7 linked regions of the Homo sapiens genome follow. The protein of the gene in region 2 purifies or fractionates together with the protein of the main gene of each other region. This does not show direct contact. Each region holds a gene or a part of one and is shown on either strand. Other genes may lie near its edges.

Region 1 (3,500 bases), on a different chromosome or scaffold from region 2:
CACGCCTCTAGTCCCAGCTACTCAGGAGGCTGAGGCAGAACTGCTTGAACCCGGGAGGCCAAGGCTGCAGTGAGCCGAGATCACGTGCCACTGCACTTTAGCCTGGGCAAAGAGCAAAACTCATCTCAAATAAATAAATAAATGAATAAAAATTAGGCCGGGCGCAGTGGCTCACACCTGCAATCCCAGCACTTCGGGAGGCCGAGGTGGGCAGATCACCTGAGGTCAGGAGTTCAAGACCAGCCTGGCCAATGTGCTAAAACCCCGTCTCTACTAAAAATACAAAAATTAGCCGGGCATGGTGGCAGGCGCCTGTAATCCCAGCTACTCGGGAGGCTGAGGCAGGAGAATCACATGAACCCGGAAGGTGGAGGTTGCAGTAAGTCGAGATCACGCCATTGCACTCCAGCCTGGGCGACAAGAGCGAAACTCCGTCTCAAAAAATAAATAGATAAATAAATCAAATAAAAAATAAAAAAGCTCAATTGCTAGCTGCATGAATCAAAAGATAAAGATTCAAATAGCATCCTGTATTTGCAAAACCTCCCACCCCCCCAGCTAAGGGAGAAAGCCCTCTATAGTTCCTCAAGATAGATGTGCAGGATAACAAAATGTCCTTATCTAGTCTAAGGCACGGCTGGGTCACATTTCCACATAAGAAAGGAACAGGAGCACGTCTCACAAACTGGAGGCAGACGCGGTAGCTCACGCATGTCATCCAAACACTTTGGAAGGCTGAGGTGGGCGGATCACTTGAGCCCAGGAGTTCAAAACCAGCCTGGGCGACATGGCAAAACCCTATCTCTACAAAAAATACTAAAATTAGCCAGGTATGGTGGCAAACCTATAGTCCCCTGCCACTTAGGGGGCTCAGGTGGGAGGACTGTTTGAGCCCAGGAGGTCAAGGCTGCAGTAAGCCACGATTGCTGCCACTGCACTCCAGCCTGGATGAGAGAGAGACTGTCTCAGAAACAAACAGAAAGAAAGAAACTCAAAATGATAGAATAGTTTTAATGCTGAGTTTAGCAGCCCCAGTTGTGATCGGATCTCAAAATTATTATAGTGTGTTGTGTTACACAGCACCACTACATGCACAGATGTTACTTTGTCCCCAAACCATTATAGCAGCCCAGGCAGCCAGAAATATCCTCACATGAGCAGGGTGGTTCTTTTTACTATGATCTCTACTTTTGTTTCTGTTTGTAGTTTCATATTTTGAAAAATTTAATCTACATTTGCCCCACTCCCACCCCCTTCGGGCATCTTCTTTTCTTTTCTTTTTTTGAGGCGGAGTTTTGCTCTTGTTGCCCAGGCTGGAGTGCAGTGGCTGGATCTCGGCTCACTGCAACCTCCGCCTCCCAGGTTCAAGCCATTCTCCTGCCTCAGCCTCCCAAATAGTTGGGATTATAGATGCCCACCACCACGCCCAGCTTCAGGCTTTTTTTTTAAACCACAGGTGCATTTATCACTTTTACCTAAATAGGTTTTTGTAAAAGGACCACAAATGCTACTTCCATGAGGATTTAGGTAAGAAACAAATGGATGAATCAGGAGAAATAGTCTGCAATCTCCTCTACAGCATTAGTCTAGTATAAGGACCACCTACAAAGAAATGACCTGGTGCACCTGTTACAAAGGTAGAACCTTAGGTCTTGGATACACTAACTCTGAAACTCCAACTCAGGCTGTGAAGCCCAGGATTCTGCATCATTAACAAACACCCTAGGAAACTATTTTACCTGGCCCTTCACCCCTCCCATTTCCAACCCCAGCCCACCCCTACCAAATTTTCCAATTTAGAGCATCATTTTATACTTTTCTCTACCTCATACACAACTAAAAAACAGGAAAGGGGTGCTGTTTTATAAAAACTGCACACTACACATATTGTGCAACTTGCTTTTTCCCCCTTATCAGGCATCTCTCTTATTTTCCATCTAAACAACTTTTCCATCCTGAAGTTTCAGCAACTAGTTTCTCATTTGGATAACACTTATTCTGGAACTAATTTCAGCTACTGAATTTTAACTATTGATTTTATGTACCTGCTGATTAGCATCAGAGTTTTCCAATTACAAAGGTTCATAAAGTACTGAAATAGTGTTGGTATGAAATCTATGTAAATCATGACTAGGTTCTTATTAAAATTTAGTAACAAAATTACCCAGCCCAAAATCTCCTGGGGCTAGGCAGCTGTTTGTAGTTAATTAATCCTAAGGTGAGTATATTACTGAACTTCTTATAGGCAGTACAATTAAATGTTTATATGCAAATCAGGCATTGTTTTCTGTCTGCTGGAAACTATAGATATAAAGTCCAAACAGCTTAATGGGCTTTGTTAACACACTGCAAACTGCAGCACATTTACACATACACCATGTGATCCATAAAATTAAGCCGTCAGATTCCATAAAACTCAGCAGCTTATTATGCAATTCAGAGAACTAAAAACTCAGAAATTTCTTAATAAACTATGTGCTAAAATACCAAATATAACATACCCAAATATTTATGAGCAAACAAATTATTACCATGACATTCATAAATAAGGTAACTTTGTGTCTGAGGTTTCGTTTTCAAAATAAATAAAAAGGTGGGAAAAAATACGGCAGAAAATGAAGAACTGATAAAGCTGAGCAGTGGGTTAGTGTTCATTATATTTTGTCCTATTCTCTTCTGCATGTTAAAATATTTCATAAAAGGTAATCTGGGCCGGGCATGGTGGCTCACGCCTGTAATCCCAGCACTTTGGGAGGCCGAGGCGGGTGGATCACGAGGTCAGGAGTTCAGGATCAGCCTGGCCAAGATGGTGAAACCCCATCTCTACTAAAAATATAAAAATTAGCCAGGTGTGGTGGTGGGTGCCTGGAATCCCAGCTACTCAGGAGGCTGAGTCAGAGAATTGCTTGAACCCAAGAGGCAGAGGATGCAGTGAGCCGAGATCGCACCACTGCACTCCAACCTAGGCGACAGAGCAAGACTCCGTCTCAAATTAATTAATTAATTAATTAATTAATTAAAAGGTAATGAGGCTGGGCACTTTGGGATGCCCAGGCAGGCAGATCACTTGAGTTCACAAGTTCAAGGCCAGCCTAAGCAACATGATGAAACCCTGTCTCTACAAAAATTAGACAAAAATACAAAAATTAGTCACTACAGGTGCACACCTGTAGTCCCAGATACTCAGGAGGCTGAGGTCAGAGGATGGCTTGAGCCCAGGAGGCGGAGGTTGCAGTGAGCTGAGATCACACCACTGCACTCTAGCCTGGGTGTTAGAGCCAGGCCTTGCCTCTAAATAAGTAAGTAAATAAATAAATAGGTAATCTGTAGAAGTAATTAAAAGTAATTTTCCAAATTTTTCTCTCCCCTATCCATGCCAGCCAAGGTTTGTAAAATTCCACTTCAAATTTTTTATCTCTGGGAATAACAATGTTGTCTCTAACTCCGTATTTTCAAAACCAACACTAAGTTACAGCCTGGTGTGTAAGTATTCCTATAAT
Region 2 (3,500 bases):
ACATGGTGAGGCCATACAACTGAAGACTAAGGTGGAAAAAAATGCAAGTTAAGAAACTTAGGGACTAGGATATTGATGACTCAAGACAGCTATCTTTAATTCTCTATCAATCAATTGAAGACACTGAAACCGAAAGTGCACCCTACAAGATGCAATATATTTACAGATAAATACACAACTCTATCCCATTTACCCGTGCAGTTGAATCTCGACTACAGGTTACCAACACATCGATTGTCGGGTGCAAATCCAAACCATACACTGCACTTAAATGTCCATGATAATGCCGTATAACCTAAAGACAAAGCAGGAAAGTTAAAACTTCTAGAATTAGAAAGATAAATAGTAGTTCACAATGTTTTAAATCCTTAACTCCAAACTTACCTTATTGTATTCGAGATCCCAGCATTTCACTTGTTTGTCTTCTCCACAAGAGAACAGATATGGGCTCCTTGTGCTTACTATCACGCCCCGCACAGTACTAATATGCCCAGTCAATGACAGTTTTAATTTGCCACTAGCCAAGTCCCAGATCTGCAATCAAAGAATATTTATTTTTTTCTTTCACTGGTTACTGCAAAACAAAATTTTAGAAACCTGATTATTAAAACTGAGCTTTCAAAGACAAAAGGAAAAAGATAACAAATACGTAAAAATAAAAAATTTTGCAAAATGACTCCCCTCCAAATAAAAGCAAGAAAAAAACTGGCATGCTCAAACTGGAAAAATATTTGCAATTAGATGACAAAAGGTTAACCTTCTTGTTATATAAATGATATCTTTGATAATAACAGTAAGAAAAGTATGGTATTAAATTAACTGAGGCTGGCAACAACTTAAAGAAATCCTAAAAGCAGCAAATACAGATATGAAAAAGTTCACACTCATTAGAAATTTCATACAAAGTTTTTTAAAAAGATTAAGTATCCATTTTTGCTTACCATATTAGATATTTGTAAAGGAATGTACAACCAATGTGCTGAAAAGGATCCTCTCATACACTGCAAGTATCGATTCACCCATTTGGAAAGTAATTTGTACTTTGGGTATCAGCTTCAAAAATATTTGACCCATTTATTCCATTTATGGAACTCTACCATAACAAAATAATTTAAAATACAGAAAAAGTCTTATATACAAAACTTAACAGCATTACTTGTAATGGTGAAAATCAGACTAAAAACTCTACTGTCCAGTAATAGGAAAACAGATTACAGACTATCTAAATGATATAATATTATGCAACCACTTTAAAAGATGGTAAATTTTTCACAGGAATATGCCTTTGATACAACGTTAAGTGAAAAAAGCAAGATACAAAATTACATACTAAGAATGATTTTTTAAAAGATACACACACAGGAAAAGAGCTTAGAAGTGAAGGTATTGATACTTACAGAAATAAATACTAAAACGAAACTTATCCAAATATCTAACAATGGTAGGATTATATACAGGTCTATGTACTTTCCTAATTCTCTATATTTTCCACATTTTCTATGAATGAGCATGCTCTTAATTTTGTAACCAGTTGGAGAGAACAATGTAAGTATAAAGGAATTAGTGGTAGGTATTCAGTAGGTAAAGAAAAAGTGGTTTAAATAGCACTTTTCAAACAGATATTTATTTAGAACACTTATTAGTATAAATGATAAATTTTACTCCTTATTCAGGTCTAAAATAACAGAGGAACTGCAATAGCAATTCCTGCCACAGGAAATAATAACTGATTAAACTTACATGACAAACACAAAGTCATGTTTATTTTTTCTTCCTTCATTATTACCTTTATAGTTCTGTCAGCAGATCCAGTAACAAACCACTGATTTCCAGGTTCCACAGCAATACATCGAACCCAGCCAAGATGCCCACTGATAACCTGTATAAAACAAAGTAGAATGGGCAGGCCAACGTAGAAGTTAAAATGTATTTAAGTTTAACTGCAGCCCGAGTTTGAATTGCCCTCCCATCTTCAAATCATAAAAGATAATGACTATTACATTTTACAATAATATGAAATTATCTTCAGTGAGTTAATAGTTAACACAAATTGTGGCTCATCTATATAATGTAAACTACTCAGTAATAAAAAGGAATACATTATTAATACTTGCAACAACTTCAATGACTCACAAAGTATTAAGCTGTGTGAAGGAAGCCAGTCTCAAAAAGTACATATTGTATGATTCCATTTATATGACATAGTCAAAAAGACACAGCTAAACCAACCTAAGTGTCCATCATGAGGTGAATGGATAAATAAAATGTGGTACATACACACAATGGAATACTATTCAGCCATAAAAAAGAATGAAATTCTGTTATTTGCAACAACATGGATGGAACTGGAAGATACTATGTTAAGTGAAATAAGCCAGGCACAGAAAAACAAATATTGCGTGCTCTCTCTCATATACGGGAGCTAAAAAATAAATGATCTTCAGAGTTGAATGATGGCTACCAGAGGTTGGGAAGAATAGTGGGGAGGCAGAAGATAAAGAAGAGGTGGATCACGGGTACAAAAATAGATAAAGGGAGTAAGATTTAGTGTTTGGTAGCACTAGTTTGGTTAGCTAGTTTGGTAGCACTAGTTTGGCTAGTTAGCTTGGTAGCACAATAGAGTGACTACAGTTAAGAGTAATTTATTGTATATTTCAAAATAACTAGAAGAGTAAAATTGGAATGTTCCTAATACAAAGAAATAATATCCCAATTACCGTGATTTGATCATTACACACTGTATGTTTTTCTTTGTTTTTTGTTTTGAGATAGGGTGTCACTCTGTCGCCCAGGCTGGAGTGCAGTGGCGTGATCTTGGCTCACTGCAACCTCCGCCTCCTGAGCCCAAGTGATCCTCCCACTTCAGCCTCTGGAGTAGCTGGGACTACAGGTGTGCTCCACTACACATAGCCAATTTTTGTATTTTTTTGTAGAGGCGGGGTTTTGTTGTGTTGCCCAGGCTGGTACTGAACTCCTAGGCTCAAGAGATGCGCTTGCCTAGGCCTCCCAAAGCACTGGGATTATAGGCATGAGCCACCATGCCTGGCCTACACACTGTATGCTTGTATCAAATTTGATATGTAGCCCATAAATATGCACATCTATTATGTTAGCCATAAAAATTAAAAATAAATTAGAACTGAAATTATTGAAAAAAAATAAGACAACTATAGTGATAGAAAACAGATCAGTGATTGTCAGAGGTGAAGGAAAGTGTAACTACAAACGAATAGCACAAGGGTGTTTTTTGAGGTGGTGTAACATCTATATCCTAATTGTGGTAGTGGTTACCCAAATCAATACATCTATTACAATTCATTAGAGCTGTATGTCAAACAAAAAGGCTCTTACTGTACAATCATTTGAAAAATGAAATTTTTAAGATACATATTAAATTATGTGTAGCTGTACATTTCCTACTATGTACATTTTCTTTTTTAAAATTTTCTGTTTTTAATTTTTGTGGGTACACAGTAGAAATGTATTTATGGAGTACATGA
Region 3 (3,500 bases), on a different chromosome or scaffold from region 2:
GTGCATGCATATGTGCACGCATGTGTGTGCCTGTGTGTGTGCCTGTGTGTTTGTGCCTGTATGTTTGTGAGCATGGTCACCTTTCTGACCCTTGATGGTGGGAGCTGTCCAGGTGGGCAGGGTCTCAGCCTCGCCTCTGCCCGCCCCGGCAGGCCCGTGTCATCCTGGAGAAGGCCACCAAGGTGAACTTCAAGCAGGTGGATGACCTGGCAAGCGTGTGGTGTCAGTGCGGAGAGCTGGAGCTCCGACACGAGAACTACGATGAGGCCTTGCGGCTGCTGCGAGTGAGAACAGGCCCAGGCTGTGGGGTGGGGGCTGCAGGTTGTAGGGCAAGGGCCAGGGACAGCCCCTGAGCGCCTCCCCGGCCACTGTCTGCCCCTGCAGAAGGCCACGGCGCTGCCTGCCCGCCGGGCCGAGTACTTTGATGGTTCAGAGCCCGTGCAGAACCGCGTGTACAAGTCACTGAAGGTCTGGTCCATGCTCGCCGACCTGGAGGAGAGCCTCGGCACCTTCCAGGTGAGCTGCCTGTGGCTGGGGAGGGACGGGGCCCCGGACTCAGCTCCAGAACCAGCTCCAACCTTTCCCATCCCCACCCCTGCAGTCCACCAAGGCCGTGTACGACCGCATCCTGGACCTGCGTATCGCAACACCCCAGATCGTCATCAACTATGCCATGTTCCTGGAGGAGCACAAGTACTTCGAGGAGAGCTTCAAGGTGAGGGGCTAGGGTGGACCCAGAGGCCCCTGATGGCAGTGTCCCCTCCCCAGGGGTCCTCAGCAACTTACGAATCTGCTGGGGCTTGTGTGACACAGTATACAGACTGGGTGACTTAAACAACAAAGATTTAGCTTCTCCCCGTCCTGGAGGCTGGAAGTCCAGGATCGAGGCATGGGCAGGGCTGGTTCCTCCTGAGGCCTCTCTCCTTAGCTTACAGACAGCCGCCTTCTCCCTATGTCTTTGTGTGGCCTTCTCTTTGTGTGTGTCACTTTTGAAATTTCCTCTTCTTATAAAGGACATCAGTCATAATGGATTAGGTGGCCCCTAACGACCTCAGTTTAACTTAGTGATCTCATCTTCAAACGAATCTACTTTCTGAGGTACTGGGGGTTAAGATTTGAGCATATGAATGTTTTGAGGGGGGCACAGTTCATTCCATAGCAGGCACAGAATCCTACTTCCACGTGCACCCATGACTCATGGGGAGGGTGTTGGTGCCAGTGTGTGCGGGCTCTCCCTGCCCCGCTGCTCAGGAGACGGGTTGTGGGGTCCAGGGGGTGGGTTGCGTGTCCGTGGGAAGGCCATGTCCCGCGGCCGGAGCAGTCATGTTTGAGTGTGTGTTTCTATGGATCGTGTGGGCATTATACAGATACACAAATGGGGAGGTCGTACATGCATACGCGTGCTACTGCCTGCCCCTCTGTCAGGGGGTGCGGCCTTCTCCCTGGGGACAGGCAGCCAGCGTCAGCGGAGCTGGGGAGCCACCCACCTTCACCCATCATGTCACCTCCTATGGGGCCAGACTGTGCTTAGCAGGTCCCATTGCACCCCTGTTCTTGGGGTTCTCACAGAGGGAGACAGTGCAGAGGACAGACCCCCACAACTGCCATTAGGGACAGGGAGGCGTGGACAGGGAAGGGCCCCAAGGGAGTTCCTGGCAGGCTCCCTACAGACGCCACCCAAGGACATCCCGGGTGCCTGGTGGTCTCTATCTGCAGACTCTCACATGTGACTCTCCCTCTGGTAACAGGCGTACGAGCGCGGCATCTCGCTGTTCAAGTGGCCCAACGTGTCCGACATCTGGAGCACCTACCTGACCAAATTCATTGCCCGCTATGGGGGCCGCAAGCTGGAGCGGGCACGGGACCTGTTTGAACAGGCTCTGGACGGCTGCCCCCCAAAATATGCCAAGAGTGAGGCGGGCAGAGGGCATGGGGGGGGTGGCGGGCGGGCTGGGTTTCTGACTGGCCCCGGCTGACCGTGCTCCCCTCTCCCCGCCTACCCCGCCCAGCCTTGTACCTGCTGTACGCACAGCTGGAGGAGGAGTGGGGCCTGGCCCGGCATGCCATGGCCGTGTACGAGCGTGCCACCAGGGCCGTGGAGCCCGCCCAGCAGTATGACATGTTCAACATCTACATCAAGCGGGCGGCCGAGATCTATGGGGTCACCCACACCCGCGGCATCTACCAGAAGGCCATTGAGGTACCCACCGTGGGGGGCTGGGCCGGGGCCAGAGGTCCCTGAGCAGACGGAAGGGGTCCAGGCAGGTGGGAGGGGCTGAGGAGGAGCCTTCTGGAAGCACAGGGATGGCCATGGTGTGTTGGGAGCCCCCGAGCTACCCCGGCCTCACTCCCGGCCTCCCCAACCCCGGTGTCCAGGTGCTGTCGGACGAGCACGCGCGTGAGATGTGCCTGCGGTTTGCAGACATGGAGTGCAAGCTCGGGGAGATTGACCGCGCCCGGGCCATCTACAGCTTCTGCTCCCAGATCTGTGACCCCCGGGTAGGGCTGTGGGGAGGGACGGGTATCAGGGTTGGGGGCTGCGGCGGAGTCAGCCAGCTCACGGGCACACACACCCACCCCTGCCCTGCCCCCCACGCAGACGACCGGCGCGTTCTGGCAGACGTGGAAGGACTTTGAGGTCCGGCATGGCAATGAGGACACCATCAAGGAAATGCTGCGTATCCGGCGCAGCGTGCAGGCCACGTACAACACGCAGGTCAACTTCATGGCCTCGCAGATGCTCAAGGTCTCGGGCAGTGCCACGGGCACCGGTGAGCCGTCCCAGCTGGCTGAGTTCCTGATCCAGGGCATCTCAGCCCGGCCTGACCTGGGCTTTCCGGGTCTGGGAGCCTCGGATCCTGATGGCAATCTCCTTGAGGGCTGGGCCATCACCTGGGGGACTGGGATAGTGCAACGTCCGATGTGTGGGAGGGGCCCCCGTGGCGCTGACCCCCTGCTCCCACCCCCTAGTGTCTGACCTGGCCCCTGGGCAGAGTGGCATGGACGACATGAAGCTGCTGGAACAGCGGGCAGAGCAGCTGGCGGCTGAGGCGGAGCGTGACCAGCCCTTGCGCGCCCAGAGCAAGATCCTGTTCGTGAGGTGAGGGCGGATCCTTGGACGGGACAGGACTGGGACAGGTCCCAAGGGGGCCCGGGGTGGGGAACTGAGGCAGCATGGCCCGTCCCTAGGAGTGACGCCTCCCGGGAGGAGCTGGCAGAGCTGGCACAGCAGGTCAACCCCGAGGAGATCCAGCTGGGCGAGGACGAGGACGAGGACGAGATGGACCTGGAGCCCAACGGTGAGGGCCCGGCTGGGGCGGGGACGGTGGCATTACCAGGGTGGGCCTCGGGGGACAGGCCAACGCCAGGAGGGTGACTGGCTCCCGCCTTCCCCACAGAGGTTCGGCTGGAGCAGCAGAGCGTGCCAGCCGCAGTGTTTGGGAGCCTGAAGGAAGACTGACCCGTCCCTCCCCCATCCCCCCTCCCCACCCCCTCCCCAA
Region 4 (3,149 bases), on a different chromosome or scaffold from region 2:
TTCTGGTGGAGCAGGTGGGCAGCAAGTGAGATGCCAGAAGGAGCTGGGTGCCGCTGCCCGTCCCCCTGGATCCCTCTGCTTGCTAGTCAGCTGGGTGCTGGGCCAGGCCTGATGTCCATCCAGGCGGGTTCCTGCTTTCAGTGCTGCACAGTGAGCAGGGTGAGGAGCCCCAGCTAGGGTCCAGATCCTGCCAGTGTTTCAGGGAATGGGGTGTGCATGCGCAGCACTGCAGAGCAAGTGCAGGGCAAGAGGAGAAAGGTTTTCATTTCTTCCTTGTTTATAAACTGCCCAAGGGCAGATGGGGTCAGCCAGTTGGGGATGCAGCGGGAGGAGGTCCAGGAGGCCTGGGTGGGGATGCTGTGACCAGTCTTAAAGCAAAACAGGAGGGAGGTGGTGTGTTTTAGACGCTGGAGGACAGGCAGTGTGAGGGAAGAAGGAAGTTGATGGAAACATGACTATGAAAAAGTAGCTTTTCGGGAAACCACAGGCAGAGCCAAAGCTAAAATAAACCATTCAGTAGATTTTATTAACCAAACAAAGCCTCCTGAGATTGGTTCTGTCACCTCGGAGCCACAAGCTGGGAAAAGATAACCACACCCACCCAGCCAGCTTCCCCCACCCCCAGCTGTTTCCAGGCCTGGGACTGGAGCCCTGCTGAGACCTTGTCCCACATCTAGGACCCTCTAGGGCCTTTGGGCACAGACAAGTAGCAAGGGCCTCTGCCAGGAACACCTAGAGGATGTCCAGCTGGGTGCTTCTCCACTCTCAGTCTGTTTGCTCAAATGTGGAATTCTAATCCCTGGCCAGTTTGCATCCCGGGGATCCCTGAAGAGATCCCAGGAGGGGAGTGCTTTGTGCACTGAAGGCGTGGAACAGGGCACTGGAGGAGGAAGACCCAGAGCCCTGGCTCTCAAGACAGGCCTGGCTCCAAGCACCTGCCATCCTTCCCAGGGAGAAGGAAGGCCTGATGTCTGGATTCCCCATTCTCTTCTGAATGCCAGGAAGCACCAGAGTGCGCGTGTGCCCCTTGGAAGACAAACCCACAACCAGGCCTGTCTGAGGCCGGCCATCCGCACGCTCCCAAGAGGCTCAGACCTGGGTCAGTCTGTCCCTAGGGCCCTCTGAGGCCTCTGCCCAAACCACAGGACTGCCCAGACCCCAGAGCAAACTGAGACAGCACAGGTCCACTCCTTGACTTCAAAGTATGGAAGGTGAGGCTGGGCCCAGAGGGTCTTGCTCAAAGCCCCCACGATATTCACTCCTGAGTCCCCACCTGCAGGCCCAAGCTGGGTGCTGGGTCCCAGAGGCGAGTCTGCCTTGCTGCCTCCAAGGGCTCCCAAAGCTTCAACCTGGACACCTCTCCTCCCTGCACACATTTGCCTCCGGGCTTGACTGAGGGCTGGGATTGGCCAGCCCAGCCCTCAGGGAAGCCAGGAGGCAGGGGGGCCCCTTCCCCATCCTCACCTACACCCTGGCTACTCCCATCCCCACCAAGCCCACCCACCTCCTGCCAGGGCCTCTGCCCCAGCCTCCTCCTGACCTGGTCCTGCCTGGGCCTCTCCTTGTGGCCGCACGGAGCGTCCTCAAGCAAGTCCCTTAGCCACTAGCTCCCGACTCCCTCACTCAGACCTTTTCCACAGTCCTTGTGGCCCTCGGGCTCCTTAGAGAGGGCCCAGCACTGGCCACTCTCCCGACTTGGCCACACACAGCCACACACGGCTCTGCCACCCCCAGTCTGAGCTGCTCCCCGCAGACCAACCATCCCAGGCCTCCCGCTGTGTGATGGGCTTCTCCAAGCCAAGAGTTCCTCCTATTCCCAAACAGCCTGAGCTGGAGCCCCAGGCCCCAGGAACAGCCATCTGGCCCTGACCCTGAGTTCCCAGACACTCCCATGACCCTGCAGAGGGCAGGAAGCCAGGCACCATCTTGCCCAGGGGCTACAGCCGCTGACCATGGTTCCCCACTGGAGAGCTAAGCCCCAGTTCAGAGGAAGCTCTGGACTCAGCTCGTGTCCACTGTGTGCTTTCAGCAGGCCACGGTGCAGCCCACTGCAAGGAGCCCTGTCTACAGCTGTGGCCACGGACGCCATGGTGGGTCGGCTCACTCCCACCTAGACTCCTGGGATCTGGTCCTGTCTTTGCCACACTTGGGGCTGGGGCTTCAGGGACTCCCCTGCAGGAAGGCAGTGCCCCTTAGTGACTGGTCACATCCTAATGCCACTGTCACCTCAGAGCCGTTGGCCCAGGGAACAAGCTGAAGACATGGAGGTTTCCCTTTCTTATAAAAATCTTTAATAAAAATAGGTTTCTGCAGAACAGGTTATAAAACAGGAATAGCAAACTCAAATTCCTGCCACCCAGGCAGGAGCGAGTGGAGCAGGTGGAGGGGGGCTAACGGAGAGCCCAGAGCAGCAACCAACACAGAGGGACCTGGTCATTGACTTGTGGGTTGCGTGCATCTTTTTTTTTTTTTTTTTTTGGGACAGAGTCTCACTCTGTCGCCAGGCTGGAGTGCAATGGCACGATCTTGGCTCACTTCAACCTCCACCTCTCGGGTTCAAGTGATTCTCCTGCCTCAGCCTCCCAAGCAGCTGGGACTACAGGTGCATGCCAGTACGCCCAGCTAATTTTTTTGTATTTTTAGTAGACATGGGGTTTCACCATGTTGGCCAGGATGGTCTCCATCTCTTGACCTCGTGACCCGCCCGCCTCGGCCTCCCAAAGTGCTGGGGTTACAGGCGTGAGCCACTGCGCCTGGCCACATCATCTCATTTTTCAAGAGATGTGTCTTTTAGAAAATTTGCATTTTTTAAAATTATACTTTGGTCTGCAAAAAATTGCATTTTTAAATGTTTGCCACTAATTGATTCTTCTCCCCTCAAAATGGCAGTGCAAGTCAAAATAAGACACAGGCAGCCAGTTCGCAACCTGTTGTATACACTCCACAATAAAAATAAATGGATCCACACAGTAGCAAAATATGTGTACAAAACCTACCAGGAAGACCAGGGACAGACCCCTACCCTCCGGTCAACATGAGACAAGGAGAGGGAAGGAAGGCTGAGAATGGGGCAGGAGCCCTTGCAGCACCAGCCTGTGTCTGCAGCCCTGGGTCCTGAGGTACCACTGGGGGATGGAAGAACTCCAAGG
Region 5 (3,500 bases), on a different chromosome or scaffold from region 2:
CGCCCTTTACATTTTCACTTATAAGAAATTATAGGCCGGGTGAGGTGGCTCACGCCTGCAATCCCAGCACTTTGGGAGGCCAGGGCCGGGGGTGGATCATGAGGTCAGGAGTTCAAGACCAGCCTGGCCAACATGGTGAAACCCTGTCTCTACTAAAAATACAAAAATTAGCTGGGCGCAGTGGAAAGTGCCTGTAATACTAGCTACTCAGGACGCTAAGGCAGCAGAATTGCTTGAACCCAGGCGGGGGGAGGCTGCAGTGAGGCGAGACCATGCCACTGCACTTCAGCCTGAGCAACAGGGTGAGACTCTGTCTCAAAAAAAAAAAAAAAAAAAAAACAAAACAAAACAAAAAAAACAAGAAATTATAGACATACTGCTACATACTATATGTGTACAAAGACATAAATACAAGCATACTCATTGCAGAGTTGTTTATAATAGCCAAAAATTCAAACAGCCTAAATGTTGATCAACAAAAGTTTGGTTAAATCAGTCATAAAATATTCCAATAATGGAATAATTTGTAGTTATTAAGAAGAGGAAATATCTACTTGTACTGATATGGAATGAACTATAAGATATGTTAAGAAAAGGAAGTGAGATGTAGAACAGTGTGAATAATACCCTAGTAACTGCATTCTTCTTAGGGCAAACACGTATCTACTTGTTTATGCGTAGACTGTTTTTGGGGAAAAACAAAACAAAACAAGAAGCTGTCAATAGTGCTGCCCCCAGAGAGGTTGACATGTTCTTACACTAAGGACAATATACAAAGCAGAAATCAGGAGGCATTTATAAGACTGGGTCTAAACAGAAGTGAACATGGCAGACTTGCATCCAAGATAGAGTCACTATTGTCTATACAGCAGCCTAAAGAAGGCAGACAAGGGAACAGGTGGCCTCATAATGGTGCTGGGGAAGAGGCAGTGATCTTTAACAATCTCTTGATGCTTTAGTTCCAACATTGTTTTGTTTTGTTTTGTTTTTTGAGATGGAGTCTCGCTCTGTTGCCCAGGCAGGAGTGCAGTGGTGCAATCTTGGCTCACTGCAACCCCCACCTCCCGGGTTCAAGAGTTCTCCTGCCTCAGCCTCCCAAGTAGCTGGGATTACAAACATGTGCCACCACGCCCGGCTAATTTTTTATATTTTTAGTAGAGATGGGGTTTCACCATGTTTGCCAGGTTGGTCTCGAACTCCTTGTCTCAAGTGATCCACCCGCCTCAGCCTCCCAAAGCCTATAGGATTACAGCCGTAAGCCACCACACCGAGCCTCCAATTTCTGTTTTTAAAGCTACTTTTACTTTTTGTTTGAAAGGGAAAAAGGATGGCGTAGAGGTAACTTGTTTTCCTTTTTGTCTCGATTCATCTTCAACATCTTATAAGATCTCAACTGTACTTAAACTCTGCTTTGCTTTATATCAGTAACTTACACCCTTCTTCTTACCATTTTAATTTCATAAACATTTCTTAACTTCTTGTTGCTTTTTTTTTTTTCATTTGCTGTTTCATTTATGTTATCTTGTAAGTACAGTTGGGAGACAAAGAATAGTCAAGAAAAGGCCAAAATTTAAATACTTGAGTAAACAGTAATTTCCCTTGTACTTGAGCATTTACTACATGTCAGGTATCTTGCTAAATGCTCTGCATGGATGATCTCATCTGGTCCTCATAACAGTCCTATGAGGTAGGTGCTCCTGTAGTCCTACATCACAGATAAAGAAAAGAAGCTCAGAATGGAGAAGTGAGGTCACACAGCACACAAATGGTGAAGCTTGGGTTTGAACCCTGAAGTCTAGCTCCAGAGTCCGGACACTTCATCACAGCTCAAACTGTCCCTCAGTGGTGAGAAAGCAATAGTAAACCTATCATTTCATCTCCTGAAAGTCAAACTTGCTAACATTCATACATAGTGAATGTGTTAGTCACTTGAGGAAGAAACCCAGAGACAGTCAGTTCACTTGTGACTAAAATATTGGGAGCCACATAAAACTCCAAGTAAGGCAATCTGGCTAAATTAAGAAGGCTGCTGTTGCCTATCTGTTTGGAGAAAGAACACATTAATAGAAGAGGAATTATCAGCACAGTCTAGTCAAAAGAACTCCATGAGTATAAGAACTTGGCACCTTTTGGCTGCTCACACCTGTAATCCCAGCACTTTGGGAGGCCGAGGCAGGAGAACTGCTTGAGCTCAGGGGTTCGTGACCAGCCTGAACAATATAGGAAGACCCTGTCTGATAGATAGACAGACAGACAGACAGACAGACAGATAGATAGAACACAGCAACTTTCACCCAGCACCGTCCAGGAGAAAGAAAGAGACACAGATGCTGGTGGCCACACCTACTCGGGTCATTCCAAGGGCATCCTGTGGAGCAGGGAGAATTCACCCCTCATCAGGGGCTGTATGACATTTCTGTAACCTGTCTTGGCTCTGTACTTCCTGATTACAATTTGGCTTCCCATGTGGATGTGCCAACAGGGACAAAGTGTATATGTCAACTGTGTCCATCTGTACTGGAGAATTATTGCTAGCCATAAATGAACAGTTCTGAATGAATTCTAGTTTGCACTTTGGTCTCTTGTAGCTGAGCACACATCTGTTTCGTGAGCGCTAATAAAACTGAGTGTCTGGATGTGCACTTGGTAAGTAGTAACCATACCAAAATCCTGTCACTGTCTCAGAGGAAGTCAGAGTATTAACTGATGTCTTCAGCAGAAACAACCTCATATTCCCAATTAAACTTGTTTAAAGGAGTGACTTTAAAAATAAAGCAAAAATTGGCCATATGTTGGTAATCTGTTATATAGAAATTAACTGCTATTTTCTCTACTTTTCTGTATATCTGAAATTGTCCACAGCTGAAAGGAATAAAGGGGAAAACAAAAGTCATTCTAATTCCTCCAGTTTTCCAGTATGTACGATGCAACTGAAAAAATCTTAAGGACTTTCAAGATTTATAAGGTTAACTAAAAAATACACAGTATGAAAAGTCATCCCTTACAGTAAGGGTTTCTCTGAGCTCACTGTGTTCTAGAAAGAGGCCATCATTCCCTTCAGTGCTGAGCATAAAGCTAATGCAGACACACGATTCAAGCCCACAGGTTGAACATGATTATTTGACGTACCTTGAATACCGGCAGCTTCTGCCTCTGCTGCTCTATGGAAAGGGCAGCATAAGGGTTGTAAACAACCGTTGTCCCAGAGTTTTCAGCCAGACTTTGTCTCTCTTCAGAGATGCTTACACCTGGCCCCTCTGTACCTGCAGCAGAAATGTTTTTTTTTCAGATTCTCTGATACAATGAACAGAAAAAGGTGTTAAGTTTATAAACTTTCAAAGATGAAGATATACAGAAGAAGCAATACTTTTTATCTCAAACTACTCAAAGGTATTCAACCTTAACTTTAGGAAAGAATCCAGAAAAGTGCCTACGAGGAACTAAAAATCTTCCCTAAAAGCTTCACTGCAGTGTCAAAAACAAACAAGACAGGGTTAGGT
Region 6 (3,500 bases), on a different chromosome or scaffold from region 2:
GATTTCTCTTTTGTTCACGATTACATCTCCAGCCCCCTGAATAATGTCTGACAATGTATACTTACTGAGAGAACAAATGCTGCCTTTGTTCTAAACAGCCCCAACAGCTTCTACTGCCACTGGCAAAGTGGCTCGGCCCTATCCCAATCCTCCTTCCACCTCTACCCCAAGAATCTATCTGCTCAGTCTTCCATGGCTAGAACAGACAGCAGGAACCTCAAGTTACAGTGGTAAATGCCAATACCCAAGTTCTGAAGAAAAAACAGGAAAGTAACAGAATAAAAAGTGATCTGGGACCTTTAACCCTGGAAGCAGTCCACTGGGAGAAATTAATCCAGGGTTCATTTAAAATTGATATTGCATATTTATAGAAACCCTTGGGCCTTGGGCCTTGAATGACTGTTATTTTAGCTACCATACTAGCTTCTGGATTTGGTCATTTTCTAAACACACACATTGTTAAAATTCTAATTATGTACTTAAAAGTGAGTAGAGTTAGGAAATTCTCAAGTCCTTTCAAGTCAGATCTTTGAGGTGTTGTTTCTGGATATGAAGAAGAGATGTACAGACCATCCCACTGTAAAGGGAAGGAAAACAACCTCCATGACATGTGTAGCAAGAAAAATGTGCCACAGGCAAAGCTGTCAGTGCACTTTGCAATAAATTAATAATCTGATTATTTTAAATGCCAGAACTGACTTGTCCTGATTCTTGATTGCAGCTCTGTCAAATGATAATTGAGTTCTTAGGGTCTGGAGTAAAAATGCCAGAGCTCAAGCCCCAGCCCTGCCACCTCCTAGCTATGTGACCCTGGCCATGCTAACTTCACTGCACCTCAATTTTCTCTTCTGTAAAGTGAACATAGCAATAGTGGCTACCTTATAGGCTACCGGAGATTAAATGAGAAGATGCTGCATACATAATTTCTTAGTGATGTTAGTTATACTGACTTACATGACATCAAAGTGTCTCTCAACACCTATTTAAATGCTGTTTCCAATTTAAGGCACTTTATAAGCTGAAGAACCAAAGTTTTAGGGTCAAATGTGGTTTAAATCTCAGCATAGTACTTACTAGCTGACAGACCTTGAGTACGTGACTTCACCTTTCTGAGCCTGTTTCTGCTTCTCAAACATGGGGGGAAAACACCTCATGGCTTCTTGTGAGGACTAAGTTAGGTAAAAGGAGGCAACTCTTAAAGGTTGGCTTCTTCTCAGGGCCTTACTAGGCAACTGAAAACGGAAATGCACTTAAAAGCAGCAAGCACCACGTGGCCTTGTCACATAGCAGGCAATCGCCTAATGGTAGTTAGCAAGCATGTATTTCCCTTCTCTTTAGAAACCGGCAGTCTGTGTTGCACTTAAAGAAATAACTGAATAGAAATCAAGGTTTTACATTAAACTGGGATTCAAAACATTTGCTCAGAGGCCCCATGGAGAAGCGATGTCCTTGTAGACAGTGAGTGGACACAGTGCTTCCAAGCATAAGATGTTTTCCTTTCCTGGGCCCAGGACCCCAGCCCCATCCTGCCCAGGCACCTTGGTGTACTGTTCCACTAGCTTCGTGAAGTAGTTGAAGAGGCTGTGCTGTGGGCGGAGAAAGTCAAACTGGTAGTTGCGCTGCTCTTTCTGCATCAGCTGGGTCAGAAACTGGCGCCCATTCCTGGCCACAAACTGAGCCGTCAGCTTCACCACATCCAAGTCGAAGGCTGAGATAGAGGGAGGATCAGCAATGAACTCAAACTCAGGAGGAGGCTCTTTGGGCACGATGGTCTCTTGGATTACTTGGGCTTGGACCTAAGATGCAAAGGGAGTATGAGGCGAGAGGCACAGGGGTGAACAGGCTCCAGGGGAGGGGAGGGGAGGGGACATGGGCATGCACCCCTCAGCAGGATGCTGTGAACCTCTAGACTTCTGTTAATTATGCACACACCACTAGCACTTGGTGTGAGAGAATTCTAAATCACAAGAGCATTGACTTCCCAGCCAACTATGGCCTCAACTTCCTGAATGGCTGAGTGAGAACCATTCCCCTCTGTATCTCTGCTCCTGCCTTGAAATTGAGGGCCAAAACTGGGTGACAGAAGATCCAACAAGAATAGGACTTATTAAATCCCATCCAAGAGGGATGGATGTGCAGAAGGCCTACATGTGTGCAGAAAACCCCACTGTACAAAGTGTTTCCATGACCTCCGCATGAACGATGAGGTAGCACAGGTACTGTGAATCCTCTTTACAGATGAAGAAACTGAGGTAGCCTGAGGTCCTAGGCCTCATTGCAACGCAAGGTCTTAGAACCTGACTTCAACCTTTATAGCCCACTGCAAAAGGAGGGACTGCCTTTTCCACCATGGTTCAGGAGTGCAGAAGGCAGGTCTGGACAGGAGGAAAAACATGTCAGCCTCTCTCTTCATTCATAATCCTAATAGTCCCTAGTGCTGGGCCTCAGCACAGGGAAGGTGGTATCAGGGGAGGCCAGGATGGAGGGGTCCTGGGAAGAAGAGATAGAAGGGAAGGGATGGCACAAGGAGGAGCCCACAGGCCACACTGCATCCTTCAGCACAGCCAAGTAGGAAGTGCTGCCCTCACATCACGGCACTGCCCTCACACCCTGAGCAAGGCCTTGAATAAATCACACGTCCCCCAACTCTCAGGTTCCTCATACAGCCTCTGTGAGGAGTCAATGAGACAAGACTCCTGAAGTACCAAGCACAGAGCTTGACAAGCAGTGCTCGGGAAATGCCAACTAACATCAGTACTTTGCTGTCTGGGCCTCGGTCTGCCTCTGAGAGATGGGGATAACGACCTCACTTCTCTCCCTGGGTGGTTGTGAGATTTGGAGTTAATTGTGTACTCCCTCCCTATCCCTGTTTCCCTCTCAAGCCCTGCGTAAGTGAAGGGGGCACTGGGCTCCAAACCTTCTGGGGCAGCTGCTGCTGGGTGGTCTGCTGCTGCTGCTGCATGACCTTGGGGATGGCGGCGGACGGCTCCTGAGCCTTCCCTTCCTTGAACTCGCTGACCTTGTGGCGGTAGTAGGCATGGTAAGGGTCATTGGGGTTCAGAAAGTTGAACTTGGGGTTGTTGATCTCGTTCTGTCGGATCCTAGCTTCAAATTCAGGCCCGTTTCTGGAGGAAGAAAAAACAACAAGAATAAACACCACTCCCTTGTGCCTGCTGTGATCTAGAACACTGCCCATTGGAACGTCCTTCTTGCCACCACCCACTGCTCAAACCAGCCCATCCCTCAGCAGACGTCCTCCTCTAGCTTCCTGGCATTGGCGATCAGTGCCATCTGCCTCATTCAGCTTGAACCAGGCCACCTCTGCCACAGGGTTTCCCTGAACCCAGTCATTCCTTAGCTCCTTTTCCAGTTCTGCCATTTCCAAAACCATCTAGGCTATCGCTCATTTCTTTTAATAAAATTTACTTTAAAAAAAATCTATTTAAGATGGAGAATACATATTACTACTTCAAATAAAAAAAAATCAGTATGCCTTTACC
Region 7 (3,500 bases), on a different chromosome or scaffold from region 2:
AAATTACTAGTTTCTTTATATGATGTGGCTACTACATAGACTAATAGACTGGGAAAGTCAATAGTAGGCCTTCCCCTAATTCAACAACAGTTGGTTCAAATCTGACCACAGCCCAAGAGGCTACTTAATCTATTTTGCTCCATTAATGAAGATGCAGTGACAACTGTCGCGGAAGTTGAGGCCTCCAAACCCAGGCTGTCTTCCAGGATTCTGGTTCCCTCCACCAATCGAAACTGCACTTTTCACAGAAAAAATAAAATGGGTCTGGTTAGACAAGAGCACCTCCCTCCCCTATTAAAAGAAGTGGGGCAGATATCTTCCGACAGCATGCCATGTGCCAGTATCTTCCCTTTAGTTCCATTCTTCACTCTCCTCTGTGCCCCAACAGACTCCAGGAGATTTGGAGTGGGAGGGGCGGAAGGCAGGCTGGACTTTCAAGCTCCAGGAACTGCCAGCTCTCTTTACCTTCAGGGCTAAAGGGGGTGCTGGCGGTTACTGGCCTTGGAGTGCTACACCATCCTTCCTTTTCCTCAAAACAATAGTACTCAAACTGTGTCATGCACTAGACAGGTTTATGAAAGCAGACTGCAGGGCCCTATCCTAGGAGCTTCCCATAAGATAGTTCTGGGGTGGGGCCCAGTAATTTGTATTTCTAACAAGTTTCCAGGTTACTTCTGAGATAGTGAGAATACAAACTCTGTCACGTGTTTGTAAATTGTCTTCCTATTAAACTCTTGTCTTAGGACTCTGAAACAGGCCAGATTTTTTTGGCATGAAGGAAAAGCCTGGCAATCAAGTTATAGATAAAAGACTTAATGCTTAAATGCATTTTTCTGTCAAAGTGATATACTGGTAACAGCCTGATGATACAGGAGCTAGAAATTATTTAGACAGATAGTGAGGGTAAGAGAGTCCTCGGCAAGGTTTCCCTTTTAATAAAAAGCAGCCCCCAAATCATTTCTTTTCTAACAAAAAGCGGCCTGAAAAATCAAGCTGCAAGCATAGATACACAAGTAAAAGCTTGCATAGGTGAATGCCGGCAGCTGTGCCAATGGGAAAGGGCTACCTGGGGACCAGGCACAGATAAGAATGTAACAGAGGAAGCCTGCTGCAATTGGTTAAATCCAAGATGGCCAAAAACTTGACTGAATGCATACTCTTGGCTGCATTATGCCCCATTACCATAAAACTTCCCTGGGGAAACCGCCCACTCCCTGCCACGTACCTGAAGCTATGGCAGTTCCAGATTAACCACATTTAGTCAAGAAAAGGGTGGCGCCCTGATTCTGGGAACTGCCCACCCATTTCCTGGAAACCCTCTCCTTTCATCATAGAATATTTGTGCCTTCATCATGCCTGTCTGCGTAGCGAGCCCTGACCACATTACACGCCTCTTTTGAGCACATCCAGGCTCCTCTTTTGAGTGTGCACTTGCTTTCACTCTGCAACAAACCTTCTACATTTTCACTGTGGTCTCCCTTTCAAATTCTTTTGTGCAGAGAAGCGAAGAACCTGACCTGGCCTACTGGCAACAGTATCTTTCTCAAGTAGCTCTATTATGTGACCACTCCAAAGGCAAATCTTTTTTTTTTTTTTTAAACATAGCACAAATTAATGCTGGACATTAGAATCATAACGTGTTCATACTAGAAAAAATCTCAAGAGATAATTTAGAGATAATTCTCAAACCGTAGCATCAGAATTACCTGGAAGGCTTATTAGAACACAAATGGCTGGGCCCACTTTGGAGATTCTGATTTAGTGGGTCTGGGAGGGCCCAAGAATTGAACCAGGGACTACATTTTGAGAACCACTGCACAATCTACTTGATTTATTGATGAGGAATCTCAGCTCCTTAGGTTTTTATATGCTAATGCTAAGCATTTTTAAAATAAATGGAAATTATCCAGTGTATCAATATGAATACTTTTCTATACTTAGTTGCTAAATTATAACTGTATGTTTTAAGTGGTACTTCAGAATGAAATATTTCACTGAAAGGTTTTCCTTAGTCTTCCCCTTTTCCAGTCTATGCCTTGTCCCTTTTCCATCTGCCCCCACAAACCCGCCACCAGTGGCAGGGTAGCGTTGAGGAACTGTCTATAGATGTGATACTGTCTAGATTTTACTGAACTCCTAAATTCTGTACACAGACAAGATCTGATTTTTCAATTGATAAAACGAGATTATCTACCTACCTCAGCCAAGTAGCATACTCAAAGATTTGCAAAAATTAAATGGCTTATATGTGAAAACACCTGTATAACTCAAGTAGGAAGATGTCAATATGTCTTTATTTATTAACCTTGAAAGGTTCCTTCCAGCCTCTGGGCCTTGATACAATGCTTCTCCTTCCACCCACTTTCCCTTTTGTTTTAGGCTTAAATATGACTTTCTTTGGCAGGGGTAGGTCCTCCGGTGATACTGTCTTCCAGCTCTGGTGCCCTGTCTTACAGAATGTGTCACAATTATACTTTAACGATTTGTGCAATGATTTTTATGATTTAGAGTTGTCTGCTTGGTTCTTCCCTAGCTCCTAGCACAGCATTTGATACACAGTAGGTACTTATATTTGTGGAATACATTCCTGGCTGAAGATTAATTTAGTAGTGTATATGTAACAATCCTAAAATCAGTCCCAAAGTATATTTTAGTACCGTTTTGATCTCAAAAAACTTTAAAAACACCATGTAATATTTTAAGTTGTGAATTTTAAATTATAATAAAAATGTAGTATCAAAGAATTATAAACAGTAGTATCCATAGCAGGGATTAAGTTCTGAGCTCATTCAGTCTTTACCGTATGACACATCTGACAACGTACTTGACAGAAGCAACACACACTGAAGCACCATCTTAAAATGGCTGTGGTAGAATACCATAGAAGACCAAAATCCCTTAAATTACCAGGGCAAGAACTATAAGGAACTCAAAAGCCTCCAGTTAGCTTCCTTTCTTTCGGCGTTCTTTTTGCTGTGATGACCAAGGTCTGAAATACAATTTCTCTACCCAGCCCCATCGCCTTTTCTGCCAGGTACAGCTGAACTAAGTTGGGCTAACAAGGCAAATGATGGGCTCCAAACTGTGCTGCATCTGTCTTTATGGTGGCCCTCTTTATTACACCAAGATCCCCAGACACAACCTGCTGGCCCAGAACACTGCCTGCTGCCAACTAGAGCATAACCTGCTCATTCTCTCCACCACCAAGTGCTTTATGGGCCAGGACACAGCCTCCTGGGCAGTGGTCCTTGACCTTGGAATCTGACCTTGACACTGACATCACTGGAACATTAGGAAAAACCCATGAGCCTTGGACTCCCTAGAGACCAGCTAAATCAGAATTGCTGCAGTGGTGCTGGGGCATTTTTCCAATGACAAAGTCTCTTTCTACTCAAGAAATAAACTCAATTCTGATTGAGTCAGGGTTTCATGAATCAAGCTTCATGAATACTTATCCCAAATTATTTCACTTATATGTTGTAAGATGTTCCCATTTTTGT

The links.
Region 1: the proteins of PLRG1 (region 2) and SF3B1 purify together in Homo sapiens (co-immunoprecipitation; 3 studies listed by BioGRID and IntAct, with this or other methods). This does not show direct contact.
Region 3: the proteins of PLRG1 (region 2) and XAB2 purify together in Homo sapiens (affinity purification with mass spectrometry; 4 studies listed by BioGRID and IntAct, with this or other methods). This does not show direct contact.
Region 4: the proteins of PLRG1 (region 2) and ISY1 purify together in Homo sapiens (affinity purification with mass spectrometry; 4 studies listed by BioGRID, with this or other methods). This does not show direct contact.
Region 5: the proteins of PLRG1 (region 2) and DHX35 purify together in Homo sapiens (affinity purification with mass spectrometry; 2 studies listed by BioGRID and IntAct, with this or other methods). This does not show direct contact.
Region 6: the proteins of PLRG1 (region 2) and SF3A1 fractionate together in Homo sapiens (co-fractionation; 3 studies listed by BioGRID and IntAct, with this or other methods). This does not show direct contact.
Region 7: the proteins of PLRG1 (region 2) and LINS1 purify together in Homo sapiens (affinity purification with mass spectrometry; 2 studies listed by BioGRID and IntAct, with this or other methods). This does not show direct contact.

Annotation. Positions count from the first base shown.
Region 1 is NC_000002.12:197,425,029-197,428,528, forward strand, and holds part of SF3B1 (splicing factor 3B subunit 1), read right to left. Parts: intron 1-3,500. UniProt on the Homo sapiens protein: Component of the 17S U2 SnRNP complex of the spliceosome, a large ribonucleoprotein complex that removes introns from transcribed pre-mRNAs.
Region 2 is NC_000004.12:154,540,401-154,543,900, forward strand, and holds part of PLRG1 (pleiotropic regulator 1), read right to left. Parts: intron 1,880-3,500; coding exon 1,787-1,879; intron 535-1,786; coding exon 385-534; intron 296-384; coding exon 194-295; intron 1-193. UniProt on the Homo sapiens protein: Involved in pre-mRNA splicing as component of the spliceosome. Component of the PRP19-CDC5L complex that forms an integral part of the spliceosome and is required for activating pre-mRNA splicing.
Region 3 is NC_000019.10:7,619,546-7,623,045, reverse strand, and holds part of XAB2 (pre-mRNA-splicing factor SYF1), read left to right. Parts: intron 1-152; coding exon 153-284; intron 285-384; coding exon 385-516; intron 517-601; coding exon 602-715; intron 716-1,748; coding exon 1,749-1,911; intron 1,912-2,009; coding exon 2,010-2,200; intron 2,201-2,376; coding exon 2,377-2,499; intron 2,500-2,599; coding exon 2,600-2,771; intron 2,772-2,970; coding exon 2,971-3,100; intron 3,101-3,189; coding exon 3,190-3,299; intron 3,300-3,398; coding exon 3,399-3,460; 3' UTR 3,461-3,500. UniProt on the Homo sapiens protein: Involved in pre-mRNA splicing as component of the spliceosome. Involved in transcription-coupled repair (TCR), transcription and pre-mRNA splicing.
Region 4 is NC_000003.12:129,126,915-129,130,063, forward strand, and holds the end of ISY1 (pre-mRNA-splicing factor ISY1 homolog), read right to left. Parts: 3' UTR 501-3,149; downstream 1-500. UniProt on the Homo sapiens protein: Component of the spliceosome C complex required for the selective processing of microRNAs during embryonic stem cell differentiation. Required for the biogenesis of all miRNAs from the pri-miR-17-92 primary transcript except miR-92a.
Region 5 is NC_000020.11:38,968,844-38,972,343, reverse strand, and holds part of DHX35 (probable ATP-dependent RNA helicase DHX35), read right to left. Parts: intron 3,264-3,500; coding exon 3,130-3,263; intron 1-3,129. UniProt on the Homo sapiens protein: May be involved in pre-mRNA splicing.
Region 6 is NC_000022.11:30,343,395-30,346,894, forward strand, and holds part of SF3A1 (splicing factor 3A subunit 1), read right to left. Parts: intron 3,126-3,500; coding exon 2,918-3,125; intron 1,797-2,917; coding exon 1,539-1,796; intron 1-1,538. UniProt on the Homo sapiens protein: Component of the 17S U2 SnRNP complex of the spliceosome, a large ribonucleoprotein complex that removes introns from transcribed pre-mRNAs.
Region 7 is NC_000015.10:100,595,685-100,599,184, forward strand, and holds part of LINS1 (protein Lines homolog 1), read right to left. Parts: intron 1-3,500.